Linked DNA regions of Homo sapiens. The protein of the gene in region 7 interacts with the protein of the main gene of each other region in a biochemical or structural test. Each region holds a gene or a part of one and is shown on either strand. Other genes may lie near its edges.

Region 1 (4,450 bases), on a different chromosome or scaffold from region 7:
ACTATAACACTTCAGGCAGCAATGCAGGAGACCCTTCTTGAAATTGTGTGTCCTTAGCTCAGCTGACTGACTCAGGCCAACATTTCTGGGCTGATGCCCACATGGCCAGGGAGGGTGGCTCTGCTTCTAGCCGTAGGTGGCAGCTCCACATTCCTGGCTGACTTCTCAGAAAGCCCGTGCCCATCATCAGCCCTCAGGAGAGACTTAGGGATGAGAGTCAGAATAGGTGGGCAGAAAAAGACAAGCCTATGACTGCTTCTGGGGAAAGGACACAGGGGTCATTTGGTCTTATTAGCTCTGAAATTAGCAGCTTCTGAAGGACTAAGTATTATCTAGAACCAGTTTTACATAAAACCACAGTGACATTTGGCAAACACATCTGAGAAATAAAAACAAATTGAAAAAACTTGTAAGAGGAAATTTAAAATTCTTCTTCATGCAAGAAAGGAAGAAAACTATATGTGAGTTCTCTTTTTCGTGTTAATATTAAAATTAGTTTGACTTGCTAATAAATAACAGCCAACCCATATGCCCTTGAGGCATTTGCAATCATAAAAGGAAATTAATCACCAATATCACAGAGTCAACAACCCATCCATGGATAATTGAGAAGTATTCTTTCCCAAATATCTTAAGTAATAAAGACCATCCTCCTAAGTGTCAGAAAAAGGGAGGCAACTTGAAATAGAGGAAGCAGCCCTGGGCCAGGCCTCAGGAGGCCTGGATTCTTGTCCTCAGGTAAGCCGCTAACTAGATATGTTACCCAGGAATCTCAGCCTCATTTTCAGAACTTGAAAACACTGCATAATTTGGAGTAATTATGTTGTTGAAAATAGTATGCTAATCTAAAATGTTTCTAAAGGGCAATGCCTTTTAGGTCACCAAATACAAAGACCCTTTCCGGGTGAAGATGGGCATTCCCCGTCTGTGCATTAGCGAGCCAGTACCTGGCTCCTACTCCCCGTTAAGAGGAGGGATAGGTGAGGCTGCAGGCAAAAGTGGGCAGCTGACTCCCCTACCTGTAGCTGGGCGGCGCAGCTCTCACAGCACACAGTGTGGCCACAGGGACAGAAGGTGGAGTTGATCTCCTCCTCGCAGCACACCATGCACAGCATGGCTTCCTTCAGCTTGCGTAGCTTCTCCTGCAGCACCCGGGTCTGCTGGCAGCTGAGGCCCTCGCAGCTGCTGCAGTTCATGCTGCTTTCTGAGGACTTCAGAGGCGAGTGTGAAGGGCTCTGGTTGTTTCTTGAAACGAGGTCCACAACGCCAGCATTGTACAGAGCCCTCCTGGCATGGTCATACACCTCCTTTGATGTTCTTTTAATATCAAAGACATATTTCTTGCCAAGGTTAATGTTTTCATTCAGAAACAGAGATGCCAAGTGGCCCTTCAAGTCACGGCTATACTGCATCATCACGGCGCTGGTCACTGTGTCACACCTGCAAGGCAAGATTGAACATCTACTTTAACACCAAAGAGCCTGGCAGCACCCTTATTCGCTGTTGTCAATAAGAACAGAAATGTCAGCAGATGTTTCATAGTCTCGTCTGCATGTATGAAAGTAAGTCCTTCCAGTTTTACGTCTGGTAAATATTCTCAGTGATTACACCTCTGTTTCTCTAACATCTCCTGACATTATGGCTTCCGTAAAGCAGTAAATACAGAGGGCAGTGAGCACGTACCTCCTCCCCAGGACAGACGCTACTGAGTGAAGTTGCTTATGGAAGAAAAAGGGCATCTGCCTGAAGTCTTGGCTTTTAGGTTAGAAATGTCTAAAAATTTCCCATCCTGTTTCACAATTTGTGTATCTATTTTAAAATAAAAAAGTTTAAAGTTGTCTACGACTTAAATTTCTTAGCTTTAATTGTCCAAATACGTGAGTCCAATCACAACTTGGCTTTAAAGTACCCTCTGAAATGAGGGAATCAATATTGCTATTAAAAAATCCTTCCATACACAGTGACGACTCAGGATAGCAGCTCTGCCAGAAAGAAAAGATGATCTGTGCTATCCTTCTCCTGAGCAGTGGAGCAGGCCCAGTCCCTCAGGGTTACCTTTAGGGTAATCAAACTTGGCTTTGAAGCTGAGTCCTAGACTAAGTAAATAATTATCCTCCCAGTTCCCTCATCTTTAACATTAGGGTAATAATAACCCCTTAGGGTTGTTGTATTGATTAAATAGGCATAGAAATCTCCTAACACACTTTGTGTCTAGATTAATGGCATAAGAGAATACGGTAGGAGGTAAGCAGAGAATGTGTTTGTGCAGCTCACACACATGCACCTTCTGTGGGTAAAACAAGACTACATTAATAAGGACTCCACTGCTACTACGGAAACAAAATGTTCAGAATTTCTTAAATTCTGTACTAGACTCATTGACACAACAATCCAAGGAACCGTAGAAACCTGGTTGTCACCTAAAAACCTGAGAGCTGTGGTGCTGAGGTGACCAAGCACACGAGATACGTGCCTGTAGAATGCGTGCGTCTCTGTTATCGCTCGGTAGAGCCCGCTGGCCGCCCTGGTGCTGATCATTTTAAACAAGAGCACGATGCTGTTCCCAGATTCCTTGGTGACCGTCAAATATACATTCTTTCCTGACTGGGTGGCCATCTGCACCACAGGATAAGCTATCCTAAGAGACAGGAAGAGAAAAGAAAGCAGATCTAGAAGGAGTGATTCTTCACCATGTGTGTGCCTTTGTGGGATCCCCATTTGCTCATGACCTAGCAGAAAAATCAGACGCTTCCTCTGGGGTTATCACATCACCATAATGCTGCCTTATTGTAAAGATACAGTGAAAAGCAGTTGGGCATATGTGGAGGGAAGTATGGGAGCAAGTGCTGGGTGTGCGCACATGCATGTCTAGAGCTGAAAACAAGTTTTTTATGGCAGTGAATGGGTTATTTGGAAAACGTTAACTCTGCCACATTGTATACCTTGAATAACATTTAAAATGGTTATTTAGGCCTGAATAAAATTAATGTACATACCAAAATGAAATCTTTCATTCCTAAGAGCTGACTGTCGAGTAAATCCCTTCCTATTTTCTATTACATTGACAGCTACAGATGTATACACATGCTTAGGTCAAAAAAAGTTAAGTCTTGGCTTACCTATTAATTGGGCTAAAGTCATCTTTACAAATTGAGATTCCTTCAGGTCCAACCCCAATGAGCAGTTTCTGCCCTTCGCTATCCCGCACAGAATGCCATTCTATGCCATAGTTTTCCATTGCCGACACAATCTGCAAAACTTGGTATTCAGCTGAAGCCTGGCTGGTCCCCTCCAACTCCTTATGTTTTGCAACAATGCTGGAGGACACCAAGAGGACAGAGAATTAAGTATACAGATATTAGCTTTAGAGATAAACCTATGTAGTCTTCACGAGTGAAATATACTAACACTGATGAATCACAACAACTTAAAACTTATGTATTACTGATGTTTCATGTATTTAGCGAACTTACTATAAAAAACGTCTAAGACACTGGGATCTCAACTATTAAATACTTGGTAAAAACACTTTGGGGATGCTGGATGGGTGATGAATTGGAAGAATTATGGAAAGTCTCTAAAAATATACATAAGTCAAATTTACATATTGGAAAGTCTCATGCATTTGTCCACATATAGTTTATAAGTATAAAGTTGACCCCTGAGGCCCCTGTGGCCAGGGAAGGAGGTAGGCCAACAAACCACAGGAGTCAACCTGGCATGGAGGCCACCCTCAGTCGAGCCTTCAGATGAGACAGAGTTCTACCTGCAGCTTGACTACAGTCTCATGAGCCAGAGGACCCAGCCAAGACATGGCCAGATTCCTGACCTACAGAACTGTGAGACAATTTTTGTTGTTTTATGTCACTAAGTTTTGGGGTAACTTGTTATGCAGGAATAGATAACTAAAATGCCTATGTTAGATCTCCTGGTTTAATTCTTGCTGGGATGAAGAAAACACCAATATACATAATAGATTTTTTATTTTAGGAGATTTGTACTTAAAGGCACAGATTTAAAAAATTCCCATTTTATATAGCATTTCATATTGTGTTTACATATTTTTCAAATAAAAGGCTAACAAATTTTTTGAAAATATTTGGTTAAATTGGGCAATGGCCCAGTCTTAACTTCACAAATTATGTGTATGTACCACAGATTCATCTTCTTTTGGAAATGCTTATACATTTGATAGCTCTATGAATATATGCAGTAGCCCTGATGCTGCCATGTTCATGCTCTGGTGTCTCTGGTCTTGCTGCTCCCTCTGTCCTGATGGCCATTCTTTCTGTCCCCTTGCTTGGATACCCTTTGGTCTGTATCACATGCAAATCCTCTATTCCTCTGGTACAGTATTTGACATAACATGTATATTATGTATGACTTCTTAAGTGCCTCGAACATCAGAGAGCTCAAAAATGTACATAAAACTGCATATTATGTGTGATTA
Region 2 (4,450 bases), on a different chromosome or scaffold from region 7:
CAAGCAGTGAGTCTCATTGCTGCAGACCAATGGCAACTGAAGTACAGTGCAACCACCACTGGATCTGACTGCCTCTGACTGGACTGCTGCTCCATAAGCTGGAGCCCACTAGAGCCCATGTCTGGAGTAATGTGGTTGGACTGACTACAGGGTAACTGCAGATCCCTGACCCACTGGGTTCTTCAAACTCAGGGGAAGTTGATTCCTCCTGTCAGTTGCTCCCTCATCCAAGAAAGCTCCTACATAACTGCTTCCCCAAGGCTCCTGGTAGCCAGGCCAGGGTAAAGGATCCTCTTTATTTTCAAGAGGATCCCTGGTTCTCTTTGCAGATTTTACTACCCCTTCCTCAACAATCTTCCAGCTATGCATAGCCATAGGTGCTCTCATCAAATATACTCACACATGCACACGTATTATCTACCAGGATTATGGGGAAAATGTCGTAGGCTCTCACTCTCTGGTATCTATTAAAAAACTATTACCCAGAACACATCCTGAGTTGTATCTGTTGTCAAGACTGGAGGAACTAGAGATAGTAAAGATGCAAAGTGGTTAAGCATGAGTTTCCTAAGATGTAGTTCTGTAAAGGACTCTCTCTACCCAGGGTGTCTTAAATCTAACACTGCTTGTGTTCTGAGGGGTCAGCTCCCACAGTCAGGGACATTTCTCTTCCAGTTCGCTAAATGACAACCTGCTTTGGAAACGTGTCTTTTCTTTCAAGAAAGAAGTATCTAAGTTCTGAGATGTGAAATTCTTTAAGGACAAATAAGATAAATAGCCTACTGTCTGAACTGAAACGAATTCTTCCCTGTAAAAAGAAATGGAGTTGTTAACTTCTAGAAGTTCTTTTAGCTCTGCTGGCATGGGAAGAGTCTTTAAGGGGGATTCAAAGACTCTTCCCATGCCAGCAGCACTGGAGGTAAACCATGGGTAGGCTGGTGGTTCTCAGCCTTTGGGGCATGAAAGAGTCACTGCACTTGCCTTCTTCACTTGTACCTGCCCAGGTCCTGTCTATAGAGTTTCAGATTTAGGAGGGTGGGGTGAGGCCCAGGCATCTGTATGCTTAAGAAGCTACCCACTGGTGATTCTGAAGCCCATCAAAGACTGAGAACCACTGGTGCAAACCATGGGTAAATAGGGCTGAACTACTCAGTGGAGCATCAAAAGGACAAAATATGGTCCAGTCGCTACTTCAAACAAGCATTTCACAGGATGGAGGTAGCCAAGGCAATATGCTGGTTCACATGAATCACTCCAGATTGACCTCAAATAAACCAGAAAAGGGAGGAAAGAAATGCTTTTGACCTTTCTTTTGTAATTTTTCTTTTCTTCCTTTGTATATTTTTTATTATATAGGAGTGACACATAATTTTAAATGGCAATGCATGAAGGAGATAGTAAGATAAAGAATGTAGGGAGTTGGGGATAAAATATAATCAATCAATCAATATATGAAAATGCTTACAGAGCACCTACTCTGTGCCAGGCTCTGTGAAAGCTGAAGGGGGCTGGGGGAGATCAGAGAAGAAGACAGGCTCCAGTAGCTTGTGAGAGTGCCACTGAGGAGTGCAATGCAAACAAGCATCAGTGGCACATGAGTGACAGGAATGCAATGAGTCATGCATATGATGGGACCAGTGTGGCCCAAATGGTGTCTTCAGGCCCAGCTTTGGGTAGGGTGGGACCTGAGTTGAGTCTTGAAGAATGATCAGGATTCAGAGGTGGCCAAAAGTGAGCAACCATGTCAGGTCCAGCAAAGGTGTGGAGATGGGGATGCTCAGGGCTTATGAGTACACGGGGTTGTCTGAAGCAAGTGGTATATGAAAGGAGCAATTGGAAATAGGACAGCAAAAAAGCCAACAACAGTGGCAGGAGGGGGCCTTGAATGGGAGGTAAGTGGTATCTGCTCCCTTGTAAGTAGTGGGGAGTAACTGGAAGTGTCTACACACAATAGGAGATTGACTTGGGTTATGTTTAGAAAGATTGATAGCTGGACTTCGTGCTTTAGTGGGAAAATCAATGAACTCAAAGTATGATGGATACCCTAAAAGTCCTGACTTGATCACTGCACAATCTATGCATGTAACAAAATTGCTCATGTACCCCATAAATTTGTGCAAATGAAAATCGGGAAAAAAAAAAAAAGAAAAAGAAAAAAAACAGGAAAAAACAAACAAACAAAAGAAAGAAGATCTGGATTCCAGGTCTGCCACGCACTGGTTGCGTGACTTGCTTTAAGGGTAAGTTTTTTTTTTCTATAAAATGTGATCAACATTCATAAAACCATAGAATTTATTATTTGGAAAAGCTTCCAGAAGTCATCCAGTCTGACCTTCTCTGATGAGATAAGTTCCCAATCTAACACTTTGGGATATACGCTATGTGGGTTTAAGGAAGAGTAGTGAGATAAAATGTGAGCTGCTGCTGTTTTTGCCATTGCTATTACGGCTGCATTCACTGTGACCATGTTGGAATAAGGAGAGCCCTGAGGCAGAAGTCAGTGAGGAGGCTATCCCAGTGGTCCCATCAGGAGGCCAAGTGAGTCCAAACAAGGGCCAAAAGACAGAGTGTGTTGTGGAATACAGAAGTGAATACAAAATTAGGTGCATGCCTTGGAAGAAGCCTGTGCAAATAGTGTATATTAGGGGCACCAACACCGAAGACTCAGCAGTTTCCTGGTACATTCACCCCTGGAAAGGTTAGTGTCCACATCTAGAATGGTGATATCTTTGATGGGCTTGACCATTACTGTCTAAGATATTGTAAATTGAAGAGTACAGACAAACTAATTGAGCTTTAAGTTTCCTTTTAACTCTGAAGAAAGCCTATGTATCCTGTGAGGAAGGGAGTTGCTGTTCATTAAAATCGTTTGATTTGGAATGGTGTAATCTGAAGTGCTGGCAGGCCAGTCCTGTGCAGATGTTCCTTAGAATGCTGAAGGATCAGAGCTGAGGATCACAGGGGCTCAGGGCTAGGGATTTTATCTGAACTTCTGCTCAGAGCTACAGGTGACGGAGGAGGTTCCCCAGAGGAGGGAGCATGGAGAAGAAGTACAGAAATAAGGACTTGCTTTAAAAAATGTCTTTTGGGGCTGGGCATGGTGGCTCATGACTGTAATCTCAGCACTTTGGGAGGCCGAGGCAGGGGGATCATGTCAGGGGATCGAGACCATCCTGGCCAACATGGTGAAACGCCGTCTCTAGCAAAATACAAAAAAATTAGCCGGGTGTGGTGGCACCCACCTATAGCCCCAGCTACTTAGGAGACTGAGGCAGGGGAATCGCTTGAACCCGGGAGGTGGATGTTGCAGAGGGCTGAGTTTGCACCACTGTACTCCAGCCTGGTGACAGAGCAAGACTGTCTCAAAAAAAAAAAAAAAGGAAAAAAAAGAAATATCATTTGAGAGGGAGGAATGAGGCACGTGAGGAGTTAGCCAAGGTGATCAAGGAATAAGAGGTAGGAAATAAATGCAATGTCCTAGGCAAAGGAAATCATGTGAACAATGGCTCAGAAGCAAGACAAGCCCGGATGTGTCCCAGAAAACTCAGAGCTCTGCTTGGCTGTGCTGAAGAGGGTGTGAATGGATATTGGGAAGGCAGATAAAAATGTAAGTTAGGGGCCAGGCGCAGTGGCTCACATCTGTAATCCCAGCACTTTGGGAGGCTGAGGTGGGCAGATCATGAGGTCAAGAGTTCGAGACCAGCCTGGCCAATATGGTGAAACCCCGTCTCTACTAAAGATACAAAAAATTAGCTGGACATGGTGGCGCATGCCTGTAATCCCAGCTACTCAGGAAGTTGAGGCAGGAGAATTGCTTGAACCAAGGAGGCGGAGGCTGCAGTGGGCCAAGATTGCGCCATTGCACTCCAGGCTGGGCGATAGGGCAAGATTCCATCTAAATATATATATATATATATATATATATATATATATGTATTTATACATGTGTATATATATATATATATATGTATTTATACATGTGTATATATATATTTATACATGTATATATATATTTATACATGTATATATATTTATACATGTGTGTATATATATATATATAAATATATATATATATATATACACACATAGGCTCTGTCCTAATCTCTTTGAGCTGCTATGACAAAATGCCATGAACTAGGTAGCTTATAAACAACAGAAATTTATTTCTCACAGTTCTGGAGGCTGGGGAGTCTATCAGTGCACCAATAGATTTGGTGTCTGGTGAGGGCCACAATGTGGTTCATAGCTGTCACCTTCTCACTGGGTTCTCACATTGTGGAGGAGGATAACTCTATTCTCTTCAGCCCCTCATGAGAACACTAATCCCATTTGTGAGGGCTCCACCCTCATGACCTAATCACCTCCCAAAGCCTCCACCTGCTAATGCCAACACCTCAGAGATGAAATTTTAGCATAGGAATTCTGGGGGGACACAAACATTCAGATCTAG
Region 3 (4,450 bases), on a different chromosome or scaffold from region 7:
CCTGATGGATTTTTGTCCTCTCTAGAATTAAACTGAGTCACCTCCTGCTATTCTGGGTGGATGGCTGTTTTCCAGGCACCACACTGCCTTTGTGGTATTTCTTACAGCCGTCATTTACCATTATCGCATAGGCAGTATCTGTTTTCTCCACCAGATTAGAGACTTCCTGAGGGCAGGGGGGTGATATTCAGGTTATCTCCCTGTGAGTCCTACTATACCATGTATGCACCTTTTTGCTGTTTGGATTATGAGGAAGGAATAGGGGTGCCTGGGGGCAGCTGCTGATTATCAACTTGTGTAAGCATTTCAGCACAGTAATGACCAGCATAGCACTGTTTCCATCTGCAGCCCCTAACACGTGATCTGCTGCATAGTAGGTGCTCAATAAAGATTTGTTGATGGAGGCCAGGCCTGGTGGCTCACGCCTGTAATCCCAGCACTTTGGGAGGCTGAGGCAGGTGGATCATTTGAGGTCAGGAGTTGGAGACCAGCCTGGAAAACATGGTGAAGCCCCATCTCTACTAAAAATACAAAAATTAGCTGGGTGTGGTGGCACGCTTCTGTAATCCCAGCTACTTGGGAGGCTGAGGCAGGAGAATCACTTGAACCCAGGAGGCGGAGGGTGCAACGAGCCAAGATTGTGCCTTTGCACTCCAGCCTGGGCAACAGAGCAAGACTCTGCCTCAAAAAAAACCAAACAAACAAAAAAAGGGTTTGCTGATGGAATGTTGTCCCTTTCTCAGGTACCTTGAAGTGAATGATATGCCCCTTGGAGACAATGCCCATGTCTTTCAGGTCTTCTTCCTCCAGCAGCAGCAGCCGCTTCCCTGTAATGTTGTTTTCTTTAAACAAGCTTGCATATACACTCATCTCTGCTGAAGAGTCACCTGAAGGAAGTGATTAGAAAGCAGAATAAAATTAGATGAAATCACATCCAAAACAAAGTTAACTCCATGATTGAAGAAGGTAACTTATTCCACTTGCCTTTTCTGACGAGCTGCTGAACCCAACAATACTGTGAAAGAGAGGACACATACGGTTTTGAAGATTCACACATGGTCAGTGGCCAGTCTTCACAGTAAACATAGAGTTTTCAATAGATCAAAATAACTTTAATTCCTGGCTCAACCACAAAGGTAAAATAGAAGACTTTCTCTTTGTAGTTTTAAAACCTCAAGCTTTCAAATGGGAGATATCCCTCTCTTCGGGGGTCTTGGACAGTTAAAAGCCCCTTGGTTTTCCTCCTTCTTTGGGAGATATTTTTAAATCCTTTCAAGAGGGTTCTTACTTATAGTGATTTTTCCATTTATGTGCCAGTGGTCCCCTGGATTGCTGAGGGGCACCAGTTTACTCAGGAATTGTATGAGTTCCAGGGACCACACAGCAGTGGACAGAGCAACAGACAGAAGGAATCTTTTGTTCTAGGCCAGGTCATGAAGTAGCCACGTGGCCCCAGCCAAGTCAAAGTGTGGAGCTTCCTATGTAGAATGAGGAGATTGGACCCAGTGACCCTTAGTCCCTGTATATCACAGGGTCTGGGTTTACTGGTGGCCTCTCACAGTACCTTGGTGAGGAGAGAAGGATGGGAGGCCAGACTCAGTCCCTGTGATTCTCTGGGGAGCCCTCAACTCTGGAATTTTATTTAAGTGGCCTGGAAGCCACTCAGCCTCAGAGCAAAGACTAAAAATAGCTGTTAGAACTCAGTGATTTTTCAAAAATTTCTTTTCAAATGACAGGGGAAACTCTGCAGCTAGGGATAAAGAGATGATATCCAGGCTTGTGAATAAAGGAGACCCTGAGTCCTCTTTCCTTGTTAAGCAAGGCTGGCAGGAAAGTGAGACTCACTGGGGCTCAGTGAATGGGAAGAAATAGTGGCAACTGGTGCCAAGTTTCCTTACCCTACGGAAGCCAAAGAGGTTAGCTAATGTTGAAAGCAGGTGCACTTCAAAAGAATACAAAGGGCAGAGAGGGAAATGCCTGGGCCCAAAACCAGGTTGAGCTAGGTAAACAGATCTTTTGAGGAGTTTCCAGTAGCTAGTCTGCACTTTGTGGCACCTGGTCTGTTCCCTGGGCTGGAGCCCAAACCCACTAAGGCTGGCATTACATCTTTTGTTTTTTTCATTTTCATTTAGTGATACCCTGAGCTTGTTAAATAGACCTGGATAGCATAAGTCCCTGAGTTTTATAGAACTTAAAAAAAATTTTTTTTTTGAGATGAAGCCTTGCTCTGTTGCCCAGGCTGGAATACAGTGGTGTGATCTCAGCTCACTGCAACCTCCACCTTCCATATTCAAGCGATTCTCTTGCCTCAGTCTCCCAAGTAGCTGGGATTATAGGCATGTGCCACCACACCTGGCTGATTTTTGTATTTTTAGTAGAGATGGGGTTTCACCATGTTGGCCAGGCTGGTCTCGAACTCCTGACCTCAAGTGATCCTCCTGCCTCAGCCTCCCAAAGTGCTGGGATTACAGGCCACCGTGCCCAACCTAGTCTCTGAGTTTTCACATCAGGAATTTTCATACCTGTTTTGTCACTAAAAAAATAGATATGGTGATGTAACAGACTAAGTTGGATTGTTTCTCAGGGTTTCTATCAAGAATGCAGAGTGCAGGACTTCTTTTGGACTTCAACAGTCTGAGTGCAGCCTCTCAAAAACATAGGGCTTCTCTGGCTAAAGCTACAGAGAATGTCTGGGCGTGCTTGTGTCTATTCCCACTTGGGAGGCCAGAATAAGGCTGGCAAATATGATGCCTCACTTTCAAACAGGCCTGAGGTGGAAGGAAAGCCGGTTCAGCGGTGTACCAGCCCAGCACTGCCTTGACCAGATCCTCCTCTACCATGGCTCGAGGCCATCCCTGTTCTTGTAAAAAGATTTAATATCACTTTTTTTTCAAGTATGTTCATTTGTTTTCCCGAGCTGCCACTTTAATTTCCTCATGGGTATTTGTTATTGTATTCTGGAATAGTTTCAGAGTAATTTAGGAAGGTAGAACCCACTTAGAAGATTTGCAGAGATACTTGCTTTACTCTTGAGGCTTTATTTTCAATCATTATTGCATTAAAAACAGAAAAAAAGGCCAGGCACAGTGGCTCACACCTATAATCCCAGCACTTTGGGAGGCTGAGGCGGGCACGTCACTTGAGGTCAGGAGTTCGAGACCAGCCTGGCCAACATGGTGAAACGCCATCTCTACTAAAAATACAAAAATTAGCCAGGCATGCTGGTGGGAACCTATAGTCTTAGCTACTCAGGAGGCTGAGGCAGGAGAATCGCTTGAACCTCAGGAGGTGGAGGTTGCAGTGAGCTGAGATCGCACCACTGCACTCCAGCCTGGGAGACAGAGTGAGAAAAGAATTTGTCAACCTCTCCTAGTTAGACTTTCCTAAGGCCCAATCTCTTCCCCTAAAAACTTAGGGAAAAATTTATGAAATACCTGCTCAAGTCAAATAAGGCATGAATACAAAGAGCTTACCACATCGTCTTCCGTCCATGCACCAATCTCAAAGGAAGGCAGCAGCTGCATGGGAAATATGCATGAAATGAAAAAAAAAAGTAATATTATCATTGTCTTTTTGGTTCATCCTCTTGTCTCACTCTTTCAGCTCTCAGCTGCTGCTCTGGCTTGGTTCCTCCTGCAGGTTGGGTTGAATGGAAAACAGTTTTCCTGACCTTAAGAGGCAGTTCTCAGTGCTCCAGTAATGTTCACCAATCTCTCAGTAACAATTCATGTACTTTGGGAGCTGTATCATATTCCTTTGTTGGTACCTGGTTTTTACATCCCACAATCAAGCCTCAGCAGTCAAGCAATTTCTGACATTTTCTCAGAGACCTAGAGTCTTCCTCAGAGTCTCAGCCAACATGAGGACTGTTGGATTATTAATGAAAATTCCAAAGCAACCACTTAGTAACCAGATCATGTATTATGCCTGTTCTCAAGGGGGAATTTCTAAGTGTTGAAAGATCTCATTTGCACAATATTTTAAAAACCAAATGTTAGCACTCACGGATGAAGAAGGACATGGGAAATTGGTACGGTCCTAAGAAACCCAGGCTGCAGAGTTGCTCTAACTAAAACAGATTAAAATACCTCCCTGTGAGGTTCACAAGTACAAATGAAGATGCCTCCAGAGGACTTCAGCCTGCACCATTTTCAGAGCCAAAGAACTACTTACTGTCTTCAATATATGCCCCATGGCCATCTAAATAATAAATGCTTACATAATTTTTAGAAGTCTGTGTGTCCTATAAGTCAAATTAGAGTTTGGTACAGCTATTAGCTTTAACTAGCCTAACTTGCCCCCCAAAAATGAATTGCTTATGAGATAATATGGCAAATTGTCACTCATCTTCTGTTACAAATATTTTCTTGTGAGTGAGTTTCAAAAAAAAGTTGAGTTTGGTTGCTTTTACTGTTAGTATAAAAATCATAGGGTAGGTGAGTTAACCTTT
Region 4 (4,450 bases), on a different chromosome or scaffold from region 7:
AGGCGAGAACCAACACTGGAAGACATCAAGAAGGTACTTACAAGGGAAGCAAATTTTAGTGCAGGTAACACAGAATGCTGCCATATTTAGGAGCAGAATTTAGCAGTAGTTTGGCTAAAGTAAGAGGTGAGGTGTGGCAGACAGGGAAATGCCTAGGCCCTAGGACAACTTCCCTTAGCTGGTGAGAGGAGAAAACTTAGGAAAAATAACTTTGAGGAATACAATACAGTTACTGAGAATCAATAAATTTTCTTGAGGATAATTATCAGACTCCTCTGCGGTGAAAGCAAAAATAAAGATACTATTTTGTTTTTACTATTTGAAGTTTCTAGAAACATTGGCCATGTGCTTTCCCACCACACAAAAAAAGCAGATGACATAACAAAGCCTAACAAAAGGAACAAAGGTAGGAGTCAGGGGTGGGGTGAAGTTTCGAGCTCTGCTTACTAATTGTGTGACCTTGGGCAAGTGACCCTGATCTCCCAGTGCCTCAGGAAGAGTAAAATGGGGCTAACTACAACAACTATCTTATAGAGTGGTTCTGTAAGAGAGTAAGAAGTAGGGAATCACTCAACCATAGATATTAAATCATGAGTCTGGAGTCTGAGACCAGCCTGGACAAAAGGGCAAGACCCAGTCTACAAAACTTTGTTAAAAATTAGCCAGGTGTGGGCCAGGCGAGGTGGCTCACGCCTGTAATCCCAGCACTTTGGGAGGCTGAGGCGGGTGGATCTTGAGGTCAGGAGATCGAGACCATCCTGGCAAACACGGTGAAACCCTATCTCTACTAAAAATACAAAAAATTAGCTGGGCATGGTGGCACGTGCCTGTAGTCCCAGCTACCCGGGAGGCTGAGGCAGGAGAATGGCGTGAACCTGGGAGGCGGAGCTTGCAATGAGCCGAGATCGCGCCACTGCACACCAGCCTGGGCGGCAGAGTGAGACTACATCTCAAAAACAAACAAACAAACAAACAAAAAGCCAGGTGCGGTGGCGTGCGCCTGTAGCCCCAGCTACTTGGGAGGCTGAGGTGAGAGGATCTCTTGAACCCAGAAGTTGGAAGCTGCAGTGAGTTACGATCGCACCAATGCACTCCAACTGGGGCAACAGGGAGATATTCTCTTAAAAAATAAATAAAAAATGCTAATGATCATTTGAGTCTTCACAAAGTTGTAATATTTTTGCTGGTGAAGGGTCTTGCCCTGATGATGGCTGCTCATGGATCAGGGCAGTGGCTAATGAAGGTTGGGGCAGCTGTGACAGTTTTTCTTTTTCTTTTTTTGAGATGGAGTTTCACTCTTGTTGCCCAGGCTGGAGTACAACGGCGCAATCTTGGCTCACCGCAACCTCTGCCTCCCTGGTTCAAGCAATTCTCCTGTCTCAGCTTCCCGAGTAGCTGGGATTACAGGCATGCCCCACCACGCCCAGCTAATTTTTTTGTATTTTTAGTCGAGACGGGGTTTCTCCATGTTGGCCAGGCTGGTCTGGAAGTCCCAACCTGAGGTGATCCGCCTGCCTCGGCCTCCTAAAGTGCTGGGATTACAGGCGTGAGCCACCGCACTGGGCCAACTGTGACAATTTCTTAAAATGAAGTTTGCTGCATCAGTTGTCTCTTCCTTTCATGAAAGATTTCTCTGTAGCGTGCAATGCTGTGTGACAGCATTTTACCCACAGTGGAACTTCTTTCAAAATTGGAGTCAATCCTTTCAAACCCTGCCACTGTTTTATTAACTAAGTTTATAAAATATTCTAAATCCTTTGTTATAATCTCAACAATGTTCACTGCACCTTCAGCAGTAAATTCCACCTCAAGAAACCACTTTCTTTGCCTGTCCACAGGAAGCAACTCTCCATGTGTTCAAGTTTTATTTAAAAATTGCAGCAATTCAGTCACATCTTCAGGTTCTACTTTTTTTTTTTTTTTTTTTGAGACAGAGTCTCGTTCTGTCAACCAGGCTGGATGGAGTGCAATGGCGTGATTTCGGCTCGCTGCAACCTCTGCCTCCTGGGTTCAAGCGATTCTCCTGCCTCAGCCTCCTGAGTAGCTGCGATTACAGGTGCGTGCCACCACACCTGGCTAATTTTTTTGTGTGTTTTTAGTAGAGACGGTGTTTCACCGTGTTAGCCAGGATGGTTTCAATCTCCTGACCTCGTGATCCGCCTGCCTTGGCCTCCCAAAGTGCTGGGATTACAGGTGTGAGCCACCTTGCCTGGCCCTTTTATTTTTTTGAGACAAAGTCTCACTCTATTGTCCACGCTTGAGTGCAGTGGCCCGATCTTGGCTCACTGCAACCTCTGCTTCCTGGGTTCAAGCAATTCTCCTGCCTCAGCCTCTGGAGTGGCCGGGATTACTATGCAGTAACAATCCCACTACCACGCTCAGCTAATTTTTGTATTTTTAGTAGAGACAAGGTTTTATCATGTTGGCCAGGCTGGTCTCCAACTCCTGACCTCAGGTGATCCATCAGGCCCAGCCTTCAGGCTCTACTTTTTTTTTTCTAGACAGAGTCTCGCTCTGTCGCCCAGGCTGGAGTGCAGTAGTGTGATCTCGGCTCACCACAACCTCTGCCCCTCCAGGTTTAAGCAATTCTCTGCCTCAGCTTCCAGAGTAGCTAGGATTACAGGCGTGCGCCACCACGCCCTGCTAATTTTTTGTATTTTTAGTAGAGACGGGGTTTCACCATCTGGCCAGGCTGGTTGTGAACTCCTGACCTCGTAATCCACCCGCCTAGGCCTCCCAAAGTGCTGAGATTACAGGCGTGAGCCACCAGGCCCGGCCAGGCTCTACTTCTAATTCTAGTTCTCTTGCTATTTCCACCACATCTACAGTTACTTTTTCCATTGAAGTCTAGAACCCCTCAAAGTCACCCATGAGGGTCAGAATCAACTTTTTCCAAGTTCTTGTTGTGTTAATTGATTTTTTTTTTTAAGACGGAATCTCACTGTTGCCCAGGCTGTAGTGCAGAGGCACAATCTCGGCTCACTGCAGCCTCCACCTCCTGGGCCCAAGCGATTAACCTACCTCAGCTCCTCAAGTAGCTGGGACTACAGGAGCGTGCCACCATGCCTGGCTAATTTTTGTATTTTGTTGGTAGAGACGGGGTTTCACCATGTTGGGCAGGCTGGTCTCAAACTCCTGACCTCAGGTGATCTGCCTGCCCCAGCCTCCCAAAGTGCTGGGATTACAGGCGTGAGCCACCGTGAACTGCTGATGTTGATATTTTGACCTCCTCCCATGAATCACAAATATTCTTTTTTTTTTTCTTTTTTGAGATGGAGTCTCGCTCTGTTGCCCAGGCTGGAGTGCAGTGGTGCTATCTTGGCTCACTGCAAGCTCCTCTTCCCGGGTTCACACCATTCTCCTGCCTCAGCCTCCCGAGTAGCTGGGACTACAGGTGCCCGCTGCCAAGACCGGCTAATTTTTTGTATTTTTAGTAGAGATGGGGTTTCACCATGTTAGCCAGGATGGTCTCGATCTCCTGACCTTGTGATCCGCCCACTTCGCCTCCCAAAGTGCTGGGATTACACGGGTGAGCCACCGTGCCTGGAGACAAATATTCTTAATGGTATCTAGAATAGTATATCCTTTCAGGAGGTTTTTAATTTACATTGTTGATACCCATCAGAAGAATCACAATCTATGTAGCTGTAGCCTTACAAAATGCATTTCTTTCTTTCCCCCTGCCGCCCTTTTTTTTTTTTTTTTTTAAGAGACTGGCAGTGGAGGGGGTGGTCTCACTATGCTGCCCCGGCTGGTCTCTAACTCCTGAGCTCAAGCGATCCACCAGCTTTGGCCTCCCGAAGTGCTGCGAGTACAGGCATGAGCCACTGTGCTCAGCCTCAAGATGCATTTCTTAAGTAAGATTTGAGAGTTGAAATTACTCCTTGATCCATGGGCTGCAGAACAGATGTTAACATTAATCTTACTCATCTCCATGAGACCTCTTTGGTGACTAAGCACATTCTCAATGAGCAGTAATATTTTGAAAGAAATCTTTTTTTCTGAGCTGTAGATCTCAATAGTGGGCTTAAAATATTCAGTAAAACATACTGTAAACAGATATGCTACTATACAGGCTTTCCTGTTTCAATGATCAGCACACAGTAGATTTTTGCATACTTCTTAAGGGCCCTAGGATTTTCAGAATGGTAAATGAGCACTAGTTACAACTTAAGTCACTGGCCACACTAGCCCCTAACAAGAGAATCAGACTGTCCTTTGAAGCCAGGCATTGACCTTTCTCTAGCTATGAAAGTCCTAGATAGTATTTTTTTTTCCATATAAGGCTGTTTCATTTACATTGAAAGTCTGTTGTTTAGTGTGGCCACCTTCATCAATTATTTTAGCTATATGTTCTGCATAACTTGCTGCAGCTTCTTCATCAACACTTACTGCCTCACCTTACACTTTTACATTACAGAGGTGGCTTCTTCCCTTAAACCTCATGAAC
Region 5 (4,450 bases), on a different chromosome or scaffold from region 7:
TGCATGTCACCAGTAGAGAGGGGAGAGCTGAAGACAAGCAGGTTTATGGGCAGTGGAAGAGGATGAGTGGCAGTGATCTCATCACATTTAATCTCAGGGAGGTCACATTTGAGAAGCCCAAGGGCAGAAAAGGGCTTTAATGCCCCCACCCTCTAGTATGGTAAGGACACTTATTACAGAAACCAGCGGAGCCCCACGAGGAGGACAGTGGGTGGTGTGTGCTGAGAGGGGTGGACCGAACAAAACGGCATGTGCAGAAGCTCAGCAGGTGGCGGCCCTGTTGTCCAGAGCCCAGGGAATGAAGTGATGTGGCTGCCAGGTGCACCGCAGGGGACGTGCAGGCTGGCTGAGAATAGTGCCAGCTGGGCAGAGCCTCATGAGGTCACTTTGGGGTCTGCCTGCACTCAACGCTTTCACAGCCTGGCCTGGCTGGTCAGCCTTTGCTTGCACTTCTTCAAGAGCAACGAGCCAGCACTGGGAAGTTGAATTTGGCGGCTCGTCTACACTAGGATTTCAGTTTTCAAGACTGCCAGGCAGGTGCCATCACTCCTCCTTCATAGTATTTGCCAAACCTGCACAGGAGAAGTAGGATTTGAACCTTCTCTCCCACTGGGTCACTATAGACAAATCCTTAACTTCCCTTCATCGATGATTTTCTGCCTCATTCTGAGGAGCCCTGGGGGCCACACTCCCACATCAATCAGAGCAGTCCCATTTTTAACTGTTTTATATGTTAGGTTTCCACATGAGATTTTATCTTTCCTAGTGCTTTAAAAAGCTTGACCTTCACCATGAGTTATTACTAAATGCCCTTCAACTCTGCCATGCTATGAATGCAGATTTAAATGTATATAATTTTGTAGCAGGATGTTTCAAAACGCCAGATCAAAAATGTTGAATGACAATAAATACCATTTATTGAGCACCTGCTGTGTGCCAGGCACCAGAGTACATGTTTTACCTACAGCTCTTCCCTTAATTATTCCAACAGCCCTGTGAGGTTATCACTAATTGCCCATTTTCTAGATGACAAAACTGAGGCTCAGAGATGTTAAGTTGTTCAAAGTTACAGAGCAAGTACATGCAGAAGCTGGGCCATGAACCCAGGAGGTCTTCCTGATTCTAAAACCTGAGCTCTTCATCCACAAACACATCATAAAGACTGGCTGGGGACTGTTATTCCTTGCTGTCTATTGCCAAAATACATGGAGAAAGAAAGAGAATTAATAGCAGGTGAAAATATGTCACAGTCGCGCCAGTGATTTTTGTGAAGGCGGCTTTTGTTTCTGCTTGGGTGGGAACCTCGCAACTCTGAATCCCCTGAGCATTGATGGGAAGCGCACCAAGGCAGGCATCCACACCCCACAATCCGGTTTCCCTGGAATCTGTGGGAGCATGGAGCCGGTGCCCGTGTGCGTGCAGCCAAGAACAGAACTCAGCCCCCTGATGTTTATGCAGGAGCACTAGTGACGCGTGGACTTGAGAGAGGTCCAGAACACTGCCAACGCCCAAACACTTCCGTGAGGGCGACTGTCGTGCAGGGAGCAGCTGGGAGGTGTGGACACCCCCACTCTCTGTCCCCGACTCAGAGAGGAGAGTACAGCCCCTCACATGCAGCCTTCATTTCCAGCCTCCAGCCTCCTTCACTGAGGAGTTATTTTGTCCCTGATAGTGAGGCAGCATTGAGAATTCGCAGCCATGGCGACCCGGCATTAGATCCTGGCTCTAAGTCTCGGCTCTGCCACCTCCTAGCTTGGGAAGGCTTTTAAGTTCTCTGAGTCTCAGTTTCCCCATCTCTGTGTTAAACTACACGCTGTTTGGAAAGCCCTAGCACAGCGCAATAGGTGTTATCAGTAAATTGCAGCAGCTGGGGCTTTGGCTTCCACCTTTATGACAAGACTGTTCCTCACTATAGCAGTGACCCAGGTCCCTGGGGTCTCTCGCAGGCTGGAAGCAAGCCAACACTGAGCCCTGACCCTGCATATGAAAATAGGATGGAAATCTTAGCTCAAAGAACCTGTGAGTTCCTGAAAAGGTCCAAGCAAGCAAGCCCTTACCAAAGGACAGATGATTGCTGCAGGAGCTTTCTTCATCCCTGTGGACAAATCATCACGAAGCCCTGTTAGTTTTTCCTCCTGGGTATATCTCTCAGAGCTGTGCCCTCTGTCCCTCTCTTCCTCCACCACTGTGGTCCAGGTTGGCATCACCTCTCACCTGGACTCATCTTACGCAGTGGCCTCCTAACTGGTGTGTCGGTCAGGGTAGGTTGGGTTGTGCTGCAATAACAACCAACCCCCAGATCTCCATCAGCACAACTAAGACTCATCTCTTGCTTGTGCTTTATGTCCCATGCAGCTGGCAGGAGGCCACTGCTCATGATGATCACTCAGGGACCTGGGCTGGTAGAGGCTTGGTCCTGACACCAGCCTCCATGGTCCCCTCCACTGAGGGGAAGGAGTGTGACAGATGTCTCATTGGCTTTTCCCAGAAGGGACCCACTCTGAGCACAGTTCACTAGACAGGGTGAGCCACCTGGCTTTATTTCAGAAGAGGTGCAGAAGTACAGACTTACTGTGTGCCTGGACACAGAGCGCCAGAAAGGCTGAGAGGAGAATATGGTGCTAATGGTAGCCACTGTCCCCACACATGCACTGTGCCCCCACCCCCAGTCCACTGGCCTCTCTGCAGCCAGAAAAATCTTTCTAAAATGCAAATCTGATCATCGGGCACACACACAGTAGCTGAAGAGAGGTTTTATGGTGGTTTCATGAGGACACGGATAGTATGTGGTGTGAGTGTAAGCTCAGAGCTTACAGGGGCAGGATCCTTGCCTGGCCTCCCCTCCTTTCATTAAGCTCGGTGACTCTGTCATTCTTGACCAAATGTCACAGAAGCATTTTGGCCACTAGGCTTCCCTGGAATTAACAAGGGAGAGGATTTTAAAGGCTAAAGTGTCCTCCTGAGATGTTAACACTCCATTGACAGCCTTCACTCAACAGAGATTTACCAGTACCTCTGAGGGGCCAGGCCTATGCCTCCCTGGCACTGGGAGGATGGGACAAACAGCAGGGGCCCTCCCTGGAGGGGCTTGCCATACAGCGAGGGGACAGCCTGTGAACAGACAGTGACAATGCAGTGTGATCCCTGCTGGCACACAGGAGAGCCAAAGAGGGGTGAGAACTATGGGAGTCCAGTAAGGGCACTTCCCCCAGCCCTGGGGTGTGGGGGGTGATTAGGGGCATATAGGTTGCAGGGGACACCAAAGCTGCCCTAAAAGCCTGTGTGCTATGTCACAAAGCTCAGGCCTTCCCAGGCCCAGTGCAGAGCCAGTGCAGGGCTCTGAGTGGGAAAGGGGCTGCTCCGATCTGTGTGTTAGGAAGATCACCAGAGTGTGAATGAACAGGAGAAAACCCATCTGGAGGCAGGAAGCCAATTAAGAGGAGGCTGCAGAACTGAGCAGTAGCAAAGGCCTGAATTTGGGGAGTACCATGAGCACTAAAGGTCTCCCCTCCACTCCCATCCCAGCCGTGACTCAGCCACTGAAGCCTGTGCTTTAGTGGTGGGCCATTAATAACACCCAGAGCTCAAGATTCTGAGACTCTGCAGCCCCATGCCCTCTGCCCCATGCCCTCTGGGGCTTCCCACATCCTGGGTTTGGGGCGGCAGTGGGAATGTCAAATTCTCATCCCGTGAAAGCTTCAAGTGTTGTCTCCACACCTTCCAAGTCAGCCACCCACTCAGATAAAGCACCTTTTCAGATTACAAAGTCTTTTTCACGATTAGCATTTCATTTAACCACCACAGTGACCCTGCAGTTACTGTGGTTCTACATAAGAGAGGCACGATCCTCATTTGACAGACGAGGCTTGCATAGACAGAGTTCATTCTCTCCACAAATACCAATTGAGTGTCTATTTTGTGCCAGGCCCTGAGCTCTCGCTGCTAAATGTCAGAATCAGAATCTGCACCAGGCCTCCAGGTTCTAGGTCTAGTGGACATTGAGGCTGGTTGTTAAATGAGGTCATTTATACTCTAAAGACTAGATTTTACTAATCCATCAGGGCTAATGCAATTTCTTTCCCCTGAAACATGAGATAATTATTTTCCAAAAGATACTTCCTAGTTGAGCTTTCTTTTTTTTTTCAAACTGGAAAATCCAACTCAGATCTTAAAATAAAGTCCTTTCAAAATCAGTTTTAGAAGAATGAATGAATTTTTGGTAACCTTAGCTGGTATTCCAAAACTCCATGTAGAAATTTAGAGAAACGTGATCAAGATGAACTTTTCCTGTGAGACTATATGAGTGAAATATAATCAACTTTGTTTAGATACCTCTTGGGCTCTTAGCCAAACTCAAGAAATTAGTGAAATCATTTGGAAGAACCTGTTCACATGTAGTGTTCTCAGCCTGCCCAGTTTCCCTGTGCCCTAAGCCTGCTGCTGCCCTCCC
Region 6 (4,450 bases), on a different chromosome or scaffold from region 7:
TTTTCTAAGTCCTATTTCCTAGGTAACATGTCATAAATGTCAAAGTTTTGACAGAATGCTTTACTGTACCACTTAACAAGGGTTCTCAGCTGTGTGGTCACTGGACCACTGGGATATGCTGAGCTATTGCTTAAACACTGACTTAAATAAAACAAATATTTTAAATAAGAGAATGCTACTGTAATTAGAAGGCAATCATTTCAAAGTCTAGATGGAGGCCAGGGGCGGTGGCTCATGCCTGTAATCCCAGCACTTTGGGAGGCCGAGGTGGGTGGATCACATGAGGTCAGGAGTTTGAGACCAGCCTGGCCAGTATGGTGAAACTCCATCTCTACTAAAAATACAAAAATTAGCCAGGCGTGGTGGTGTGCACCTGTAATCCACTGAGGCAGGAGAATCACTTGAACCCGGGAAGTGGAGGTTACAGTGAGCTGAGATAGCACCACTGCATCCAGCATGGGCAACAGAGCGAGATTCTGTTTCAAAACAAAAAATAAAAAACAAAAAAAAGTCTAGGTGGAAATGTGGAGCGTTACAAATCAAATAAATTCAAAGAGGTTGATAAAGAAAATTTTTCCCTCCTATGAAATCTAATTACAAGCATTCAGGTTGTACATGAGTTCTGTTTTTTTTTTTTTAATCACCTTGTAGAACTTCCTCCCTCTGACAACTCTCTGATGTTCTTACTATTCTCATCATTTTCATAAAATGTACCAGCAGCATGAATTTTGTGATGACTTACAAGATTTGATCGCCAGCTGAACCTCTTACCACATATCTCACATTTGTAAGGTTTTTCCCCAGTGTGAACTCGCCTATGATACTGTAATTGTGAAGACCGACTGAAGACTTTACCACATACATCACATTTGTATGGTTTCTCTCCTGTGTGGACACTCTGATGAAGTTGGAGACTTGAGGCCTGACTGAAGTGCTTCCCACACTCCCCACATGTATAGGGTTTTTCTCCTGTGTGCACCCTCTGATGCATGTCAAGGTTCAAGCTCCACTTGAAGCCCTTTCCACACTCCCCACATTTGTATGGCTTTTCTCCAGTGTGGACTTTTTGATGGGCTTGAAGGTGTGCACTCCGACTGAAGCTCTTCCCACACTCTTCACATTTAAATGGTTTTTCCCCACTGTGAACTCTCTGATGGGTTAGAAGATGCGAGGCCTGACTGAAGACCTTCCCACACTCCTCACAATTATATGGTTTCTCCCCTGTGTGGATCCTACAATGAATTTTAAGATCTGCTCTACGACTAAATCCCTTTCCGCACTCTTCACATTTGTATGGTTTCTCACCGGTATGGATCAGCTGGTGAATCTGAAGTCGTGAGCTCTGATTGAAGCCCTGCCCACACTCTTCACACTTAAAAGGTTTCTGTACACTATGTGCTTTCAGATGGATTTTAAGATATGAACTCTGACGGAAGGCTTTACCACATACTTCACATTTATAGGGTTTTTCCCCTGTGTGGACTACCAGATGCACTTGATAATGAATTTTCATTCTGAAGCTCTTCCCACACTCATTGCATTTGTATGGCTTCTCTCCAGTGTGGACTCCCTGATGGGCCTGAAAACTTGAACTGTAAATGAAACCCTTACCACACACTTTACATACGTATGGTTTCTCTCCAGTGTGGATTCTCCGATGGGCCTGAAATTGTGAAGGCTGAATAAAGCACTTACCACATTCTTCACACTTGTAAGGTTTCTCTCCTGTGTGGACCCTTTGATGGATACGAAGGTTTGAGCTACAAGTGAAACACTTACCACAGTCCTCACATTTGTATGGTTTCTCTCCTGTGTGGACCATGCAATGATTATTAAGTGCTGATCTACGACGGAAGTTCTTACCACATGTATCACATTTGAATGGTTTCTCCCCAGTATGAATTCTCTGATGTTCCTGAAGATGGGAAGCATGTATGAAGGCCCTTCCACATTCCTCACAATTGTAAGGTTTCTCTCCTGAGTGTAATTTGCAATGTACAGTAAGTGTTGATCTACGACTGAAGCCTTTCCCACATTCCACACATTTGAATGGTTTCTCTACAGTGTGGACTCTCTGATGAGTTTGAAGATGTGAGCTCTGACTAAATTCCTTACCACACACGTCACACTTATAGCATTTCTCTCCCATGTGGACTCTTTGATGAATATGAAGGGCTGAGATGTAACAGAAGCTTTTTCCACACTCATCACATGTATGAGACTTCTCTCCTGAGTGTAACTGTTGATGAAGATCAAAGTTGAAGACATCAGTGAAGGATTTTTTGTACTCATCACATTGGTAAAATTTCTGTCCTGTGTGAGTTGTATATAGTCCTGCCCTAACCTGGCAGGACAAATCACCTTGTCTGGGGAACCGAGAAATACTTATCATAGAGTCTTCATACTTGATTAAATCACTTGCAATCTGTTTCCAGATTTGCCCCCAGTAAAGCTCTTCATGTCGTCCTGCTTCTGGAACAGTCTCCACCTCACTTTGGATCTTGTCTGCTGTAAGGACAGAGAATTCAGAGATGTGGAGGCTCTGTTAAAAGTTTTCAAGATGTCATACTTAGGCGAGAGCATGCGATTTTAACAAATCCAGAGAAGGTCCAGTTTGTGTAATGGTCTTTTCCACTGTGTATCATGATCTCTGATTTCCATGCCTAGATAAATCAAGAGGTGGTCCAATTGGCTGCTATCTACCAGGCATTAGACCATACCAAGTCTCCTATGTGAGACACAAGTTAGAAGTCAGAGTTAATTTTAAAAATTAACATGATACAAATTGTACTGCCATTTCCATCGAATTTTAAAGTCAGTGTAGAATAATAAATAGTAAATTATCTAAATATAAAAAGCATAGGCCAGGCATGGTCATGCCTGTATATCCCAGCATTCTGGGAGGCTGGGGCAGAAGGATAGTTTGAGGCCAGGGGTTTGAGACCAGTCTGGGCAACAAAGCAAGAATGTACCTCTATTAAAAATATTAAAAGTTAAAAAAAAATGTAGATAATATAAATCAACAAGAACTTCAAGGGAAAGTAAGAAAATAATCAAATATTTTGCAGTTTAGGTTCATGTTACATATTCAAATTATTAAATAACCTGAAATGTTTATATTTACATGTTCAAAATACAGTTGACCGTTGAACAACACAGGTTTGACCTGCATGTGTTCACTTATACATGGATTTTCTTCCATCTCTGCCATCCCTGAGACAGCAAGACCAACCCCTCCTCTTCCTCCTTATAATTTTCTTAATAACATTTTCTCTTCTCTTTATTGTAAGAATAAAGAATTCTTCCTTTATTGTAAGAATATAGTATACAATACATTATAACATACAAAATATGTGTTAATTGACTATGTTATCAGTAGGTCTTTCAGTCAAAGTAGGCCATGAGTAAAGTTTTAGAGGGGAGTCAAAAGTTATACTTGGATTTTTTACTGTGAGGGGAGTTGGTGTCCCTAACCCCCAAGTTGTTCAAGGATCAACCATATTCTTGAATATTCTGCATAACATATACACTTAATCTTATTTTTCTGTGTTGACAGACATTAAATGAGCTGACAACTATTATAAACTCTTGACCACTTCTAATATAACTTAGATTTAAAATGTTTAAACCCTTCTGAAAGGTTTATCCTTAATAATATTCCAAAATGTTTAATCTTGTATAAAGAGATATAAATATTTGGAAATTATTTTTTAAATGAACTCTTCCACAAAAGTTTAGCAGAAAGACGTACCTCTAAGGAAATTTTTACAGAGGAAAAACTTACTCCCCTCCTGCAGGAATAGTCATTTAAAAGCTGCCTCTTGGCAGGGTGCAGTGGCTCACATCTGTAATCCAAGCATGTTGGGAGGCTGAAGCCGGAGGATCACTTGAGCCCAGGAGTTCAAGACCAGCCTGGGCAACATAGCAAGACTCTGGCCCTACAAAAAAACTTTTAAAAAAATTGGCCAGATGTGGTGGCACGCACCCGTAGTTAACACTATTTGGGAGGCTGAGATGGAGGATCGCTTGAACTCAGGAGTTAGAAGCTGCAGTGAACCATGATTTTATCACTGCACTTCAGCCTGAGGGACACAGTGAGACTTTGTCTCAAAAAAAAAAAAAAAAAAAAAAGAAAAAGAGAAAAAAATCTACCTCCTCCTTTGTATCAGTAGACATTTGTTAAATGGTGTCTATATAACTCTGCCCTGAGTCATTTTATTGGAAAGTTACTTCAATATCCAGGTGACTGGAATGGTTAACATGACTTGCAGGCTGGGAGCAAGTACCTAACCACATACTGACTAAAATATTAGCAGATAAGCAGATGGTGAAACTTTAGCTTCTGTCAGCAAGTTTCCTACATGAGGACTAAAGGGAAAGAAAGTTGAACTGATAACATGTATTATTCTAAAAGCTGACAGTAATTTAGACCTCCAGAAAAAAAAAAAAG
Region 7 (4,450 bases):
AAGAGGTACTACCTCTGCGATTGAAGAATTCCCGAGAATATTTTCCAGATAGAGCAAAGTGCCTTGGAATACTGCCTAGCAGCTCTATGATGTGGGCTATGTGGTCTATGGAGGAGAGAAAAAAAGGATATGGGAATGGGAGGGGCAAAGGGAAGGATGGGATAAAAGAAGAGGGAAAAATTGAAATTAGTAAAAAATCAGAAATAGATTCAAATCAACAGTGTCTGCAGCACATCCATGCAGAGGCTTGTGGGAATGGCAGGCCTCAGGCACCACCTGGAGCAGTAACAGTGACTGAGGCCAGCTCACCCCAGGCCACCCCAGCATCGCAAGCAAATAAGCATGGAGATGGTCAGGTTTACAGATGGCATTCAAGCCAGAATTCCTGGGTTTTCAACTCAGCTCCCAAACAGGACAGAGAAATGGGCAGCACATCAATGGTCAAAAGGACCACATAGAGGCTTCAGGTCTGTATCATCTGTCTTCTCTCAGCCAGCTGGGTTCCTGCCCTGTGCAAGGCCAGGAAGAGCCGCTGGTGTAGGGCCCCTGAGGGCTCGCTGGAGTGCTGCCTGTGCTAGGCAGGCTCTGCCCATTCACTGAGACTGAGGGGGCATCAAACTCAAAGGAAAAGCATCTGAATTTGGTGTTTGAAAACCAAACACATGGCTCTATTTCAGTACAAAAATACAGTACTCTACAGAAGTTCAGGGCTGGCAGAAGACCTAGACCGAGGTATTCAGCAGGCACCAATACTCACCTTCGTCTCTGGAATAGTCTTCCCCAGAATGTGGTTCAAACAAATAATCTCCCGTTGCCAGCTCAAATGCCTAGGATACAACAGACGACATGCTAAGCACTTCAGAGACTGGCCCCCAAGTCAACAGCTTTTTCTCCTTATAGAAGAGACCGCCACTTTATGAAGATCTGAATCAAACAAAATAGCCTCCTGAAAGTGCTCAATACTAATTTTTTTCTTTCTTCCACATTCAAAGAAGTTTCAGAAGTATTTTTACATTTCTAAGGAAAGATATAAGAGCTATGTATTCTCTTCATTTTGCAGGAAGCAAAACCAAAACGTCAGTGAGTCAGCCGCACCTGCATGCAGGCCTGGCCAGAGCGCGGTATGCACTCTATAAATGGTAGAACGAGAGTTCAACCCAGGACTCAACAAGGCCCGTCTGACTCCAGCACCTGCCTCAACCACTATAATAGCCTTGGCCTCTGTATAGCAGACACTGCTGCGTCTTTTAGGCGAAGACCTTCATGTTTTAGTAACCAAGGACTATTTTCAGTATCTCATCAACCATTTTCATCATCATTTCATTCATTTCTGATTCAACCAAAGGAAAACCTGGAAACAAAAAAGACCCTCTTTGTCCCCAGGGCCAGAGGAAGCAGATGGTCTTGCAGACCCTTTTGTGGATGTCACGGAGCACTGGCTTCCTGGGTGGCCACTGGCTGTCCCTCAGCATGCCAGCATGTAGGGAACACATTTCCCTTGCTCACAAAAAAACCCTCAAAAACATGAGTTTAAGCTAGTAACAATATACAAAAATGGCAACTGCTACTGCTCTGCTGATCAAAGAGAATGTTTTAAAAGAGAAAAAAAGAATAAGCTAAATCCCATTTCTGGTTTTTCTCATAGCTGCTTCTATTCTGAACGGATCTTGCTGTCCCAAAAGGTGCTCAGAGGCCCAATCACTGATGCCTGTGGATCTGTGACTGCCCTCCCCATTCCCGCCCCAAGGAGCCAATACTGGGGAAACTTCACTGCATCAACCTACCTTCTTTTTCTTTCAATGACCACACAGTGCTGGAAAGGCACCTTTAAGGGAAGGCTCACCTGCCTGGGTGAGGGGCCACCTCTCCTGGCACTGTCTTTAACAAACCAAGAGTGAGTGCAGTCAGCCCAGGACCACATCTTTTCACCTTTTTTAAAAAAAAAGACTGCCTGTCAATCACTTGAAGGAAGGAAGGATGGTGACAAGATGGCTTCCAGCTGACCGAGCGATAAGCATTAATTTATGAACTCAGGATCCCTGCCCTGAACCTGGCATAGGTCTGAGCAAGACACGGACATGTCACATCTCAGCATGGTGAGCTGGTGGTCCCAGCACTGTGGATGCACGAAGGCACCAGCAGAAAACCCAGGAAAGCCCTTATGTAGGGCCTCTCCTTTCCACCCAATAAACAAAGAAGACAGTTGGGCCAATCCCAGATGAGGGCAGGAAAACCTCATAACTGGCCCCAAATCCAAGTGGAACAACTAGATTACACACTCAATGGCCAGGAGAGTCCTTCTAGCCTGGGAAACAATCAATTCAGTATCTTACAAGCTAAGAGAAAAATCTGAAAACTCTAATGGGACAACGAGGACTTGAAAAGCCTGGATCAAGTTCCAAGCTGCTTTTCAACCCCTGCCTTGAGCCCTATGCTAACTAACTCTTTTAATTAATTTTCAAAATGACTTCAATCTGGTTGCATATATTTCTTTTTCTTTCATATTTTTTAGAGAAGGGACCTCGCTATGTTGTCCAGGCTGGACTCAACCTCTTGGGCTCCAGTGATCCTCTCTCAGCCTCCAGAGAAGCTGGGACTACAGGCGCACTACACTGCACCCAGCTTTGTACATATTTCTTACTGCCAAAATATGTCAGGTATGTATTCTTTGAAAAAAATCATCATTTTGATTAGCACCCACATATTCCCAAGAAAACATGTATAGAAGCCAATCAATGAAATAATTTTTTTTTGAGACGGAGTCTCGCTCTGTCACCCAGGCTGGAGTGCAGTGGCACAATCAATCTCAGCTCACTGCAAGCTCACACCATTCTCCTTGCCTCAGCCTCCTGAGTAGCTGGGACTACAGGCGCCCGCCACCACGCCCGGCTAATTTTTTGTAGAGACGGGATTTCACCATGTTAGCCTGACCTCGTGACCCGCCTGCCTCGGCCTCCCAAAGTGCTGGGATTACAGGCGTGAGCCACCAAGCCCGGCCAAATAATTTTCTTTTTTTTTAAAGGAACAAGGAAGATGAAGGCTGTAATGCTACCCATTTTTGATTCTTTGGAGAGTGGCAAGATTCTCTTAACAATACAACATGTACAACAGGGCAAATGCACATTACAATGAAAAAAACTCTGCCTTCAACTCAGTTACTCCCAGTATAACCTTCTATTGCCCAGGCTGAGTGCAGCGGCACAATTTTGGCTCACTACAACCTCTGCCTCCTGGGTTCAAGCGATTCTCCTGCCTCAGCCACCTGAGTAGCTAGGACTATAGGCACGTGCCACCATGCCCAGCTAATTTTTGTATTTTCAGTAGAGATGGGGTTTTGCCATGTTGGCCAGGCTGGTCTCAAACTCCTGGCCTCAAGTGATCTGCCTGCCTTGGCCTCCCAAAGTGCTGGGATTACAGGTGTGCATCACCTCGCTGGGCCTAAGTATAATCTTTATTATTATTTTTAATACCTGGGAACTCCGGATTCTTCTCTACTTGGCTCAATCCCCTCAAAGGGCTCTTCCCTGGACCTACTTGTTTCCAGATTCTTGGGAGACCAACTACCTCTCTCCTAAAACATTCTCCTATGCTGAAGTATCCCGATTCTGAACAAATAAGATCACGTATTTGTTCTGTAATGTGACCAGTGCCGAAGAAGTCTGGTGAAGTTTGTTGGAATGGCTTTTCTTGTTTCTATGGCACTGACCAGGACTCACCATGGAGTTCATAAAAAGTCCTATCAGAGACTCTAATACATAAATGCAGAGAAACCAATGCTTCAGCCACAAAGAAGTTTCAGATTATATGTACTTACACTGGAAGGTGTAAAGCTCAAAAAAAAAGTAAAACTCAAGAAAAGTAAAACAGATCCAAACCCAACATACCCTTGCTGTGGTCCCTCATTCTGTTGTGCTTCTCCAGCTGCAGAGCCTAAAGCTGTCCTCCCTGACAATAGCCAATGGCTACCACCCGTCAGCTCTCATTCCCAACAGAGTCTCTGTGAGATTTGATGCTATTTATAAATCTCAAAGACAGCCGGGCACAGTGTCACATCCCTGTAATCCCAGCACTATGGGAGACCAGGGCGGGTGGATCACTTGAGCTCAGGAGATCAAGACCAGCCTAGACAACGTGACAAACTCCATCTCTACAAAAAATACAAAAATTAGCCAGGCGTGGTGGCATGTGCCTGTAGTCCCAGCTACACCAGAGGCTGAGGTGGGAGGATCACTTGAGCTTGGGAAGTGGAGTCTGCAGTGAACTATAGTCCTGCCACTGCACTTCAGCTTGGGGAACAGAGCAAGACCTTGTCTCCAAACAAACAAACAAAACCCTCAAAGACTATATATAGGCTTTACCACCAAGAACCATCTGTGGCCTTATGACAGCTTGGTATTATGAGGTCAAATTTAATATATTAAATGTCCTATTTTTACACTACAACAGAACG

The links.
Region 1: of the proteins of SRPK2 (region 7) and MYLIP, one has a biochemical effect on the other in vitro, tested with the Homo sapiens proteins (one large-scale study listed by BioGRID).
Region 2: of the proteins of SRPK2 (region 7) and CLIC5, one has a biochemical effect on the other in vitro, tested with the Homo sapiens proteins (one large-scale study listed by IntAct).
Region 3: of the proteins of SRPK2 (region 7) and MAP3K20, one has a biochemical effect on the other in vitro, tested with the Homo sapiens proteins (one large-scale study listed by BioGRID).
Region 4: of the proteins of SRPK2 (region 7) and RNF4, one has a biochemical effect on the other in vitro, tested with the Homo sapiens proteins (one large-scale study listed by BioGRID and IntAct).
Region 5: of the proteins of SRPK2 (region 7) and RASGRF1, one has a biochemical effect on the other in vitro, tested with the Homo sapiens proteins (one large-scale study listed by BioGRID).
Region 6: of the proteins of SRPK2 (region 7) and ZNF234, one has a biochemical effect on the other in vitro, tested with the Homo sapiens proteins (one large-scale study listed by BioGRID).

What each region holds. Positions count from the first base shown.
Region 1 is NC_000006.12:16,141,887-16,146,336, reverse strand, and holds part of MYLIP (E3 ubiquitin-protein ligase MYLIP), read right to left. Parts: intron 3,318-4,450; coding exon 3,120-3,317; intron 2,639-3,119; coding exon 2,474-2,638; intron 1,441-2,473; coding exon 1,020-1,440; intron 1-1,019. UniProt on the Homo sapiens protein: E3 ubiquitin-protein ligase that mediates ubiquitination and subsequent proteasomal degradation of myosin regulatory light chain (MRLC), LDLR, VLDLR and LRP8. Activity depends on E2 enzymes of the UBE2D family.
Region 2 is NC_000006.12:46,005,611-46,010,060, reverse strand, and holds part of CLIC5 (chloride intracellular channel protein 5), read left to right. Parts: intron 1-4,450. UniProt on the Homo sapiens protein: In the soluble state, catalyzes glutaredoxin-like thiol disulfide exchange reactions with reduced glutathione as electron donor. Can insert into membranes and form non-selective ion channels almost equally permeable to Na(+), K(+) and Cl(-).
Region 3 is NC_000002.12:173,228,757-173,233,206, reverse strand, and holds part of MAP3K20 (mitogen-activated protein kinase kinase kinase 20), read right to left. Parts: intron 3,519-4,450; coding exon 3,474-3,518; intron 1,016-3,473; coding exon 985-1,015; intron 888-984; coding exon 748-887; intron 1-747. UniProt on the Homo sapiens protein: Stress-activated component of a protein kinase signal transduction cascade that promotes programmed cell death in response to various stress, such as ribosomal stress, osmotic shock and ionizing radiation.
Region 4 is NC_000004.12:2,471,859-2,476,308, reverse strand, and holds part of RNF4 (E3 ubiquitin-protein ligase RNF4), read right to left. Parts: intron 1-4,450. UniProt on the Homo sapiens protein: E3 ubiquitin-protein ligase which binds polysumoylated chains covalently attached to proteins and mediates 'Lys-6'-, 'Lys-11'-, 'Lys-48'- and 'Lys-63'-linked polyubiquitination of those substrates and their subsequent targeting to the proteasome for degradation.
Region 5 is NC_000015.10:79,080,367-79,084,816, reverse strand, and holds part of RASGRF1 (ras-specific guanine nucleotide-releasing factor 1), read left to right. Parts: intron 1-4,450. UniProt on the Homo sapiens protein: Promotes the exchange of Ras-bound GDP by GTP.
Region 6 is NC_000019.10:44,154,310-44,158,759, reverse strand, and holds part of ZNF234 (zinc finger protein 234), read right to left. Parts: intron 2,509-4,450; coding exon 641-2,508; 3' UTR 1-640.
Region 7 is NC_000007.14:105,126,236-105,130,685, forward strand, and holds part of SRPK2 (SRSF protein kinase 2), read right to left. Parts: intron 2,658-4,450; exon of another isoform or gene 2,551-2,657; intron 828-2,550; coding exon 758-827; intron 106-757; coding exon 13-105; intron 1-12. UniProt on the Homo sapiens protein: Serine/arginine-rich protein-specific kinase which specifically phosphorylates its substrates at serine residues located in regions rich in arginine/serine dipeptides, known as RS domains and is involved in the phosphorylation of SR splicing factors and the regulation of splicing.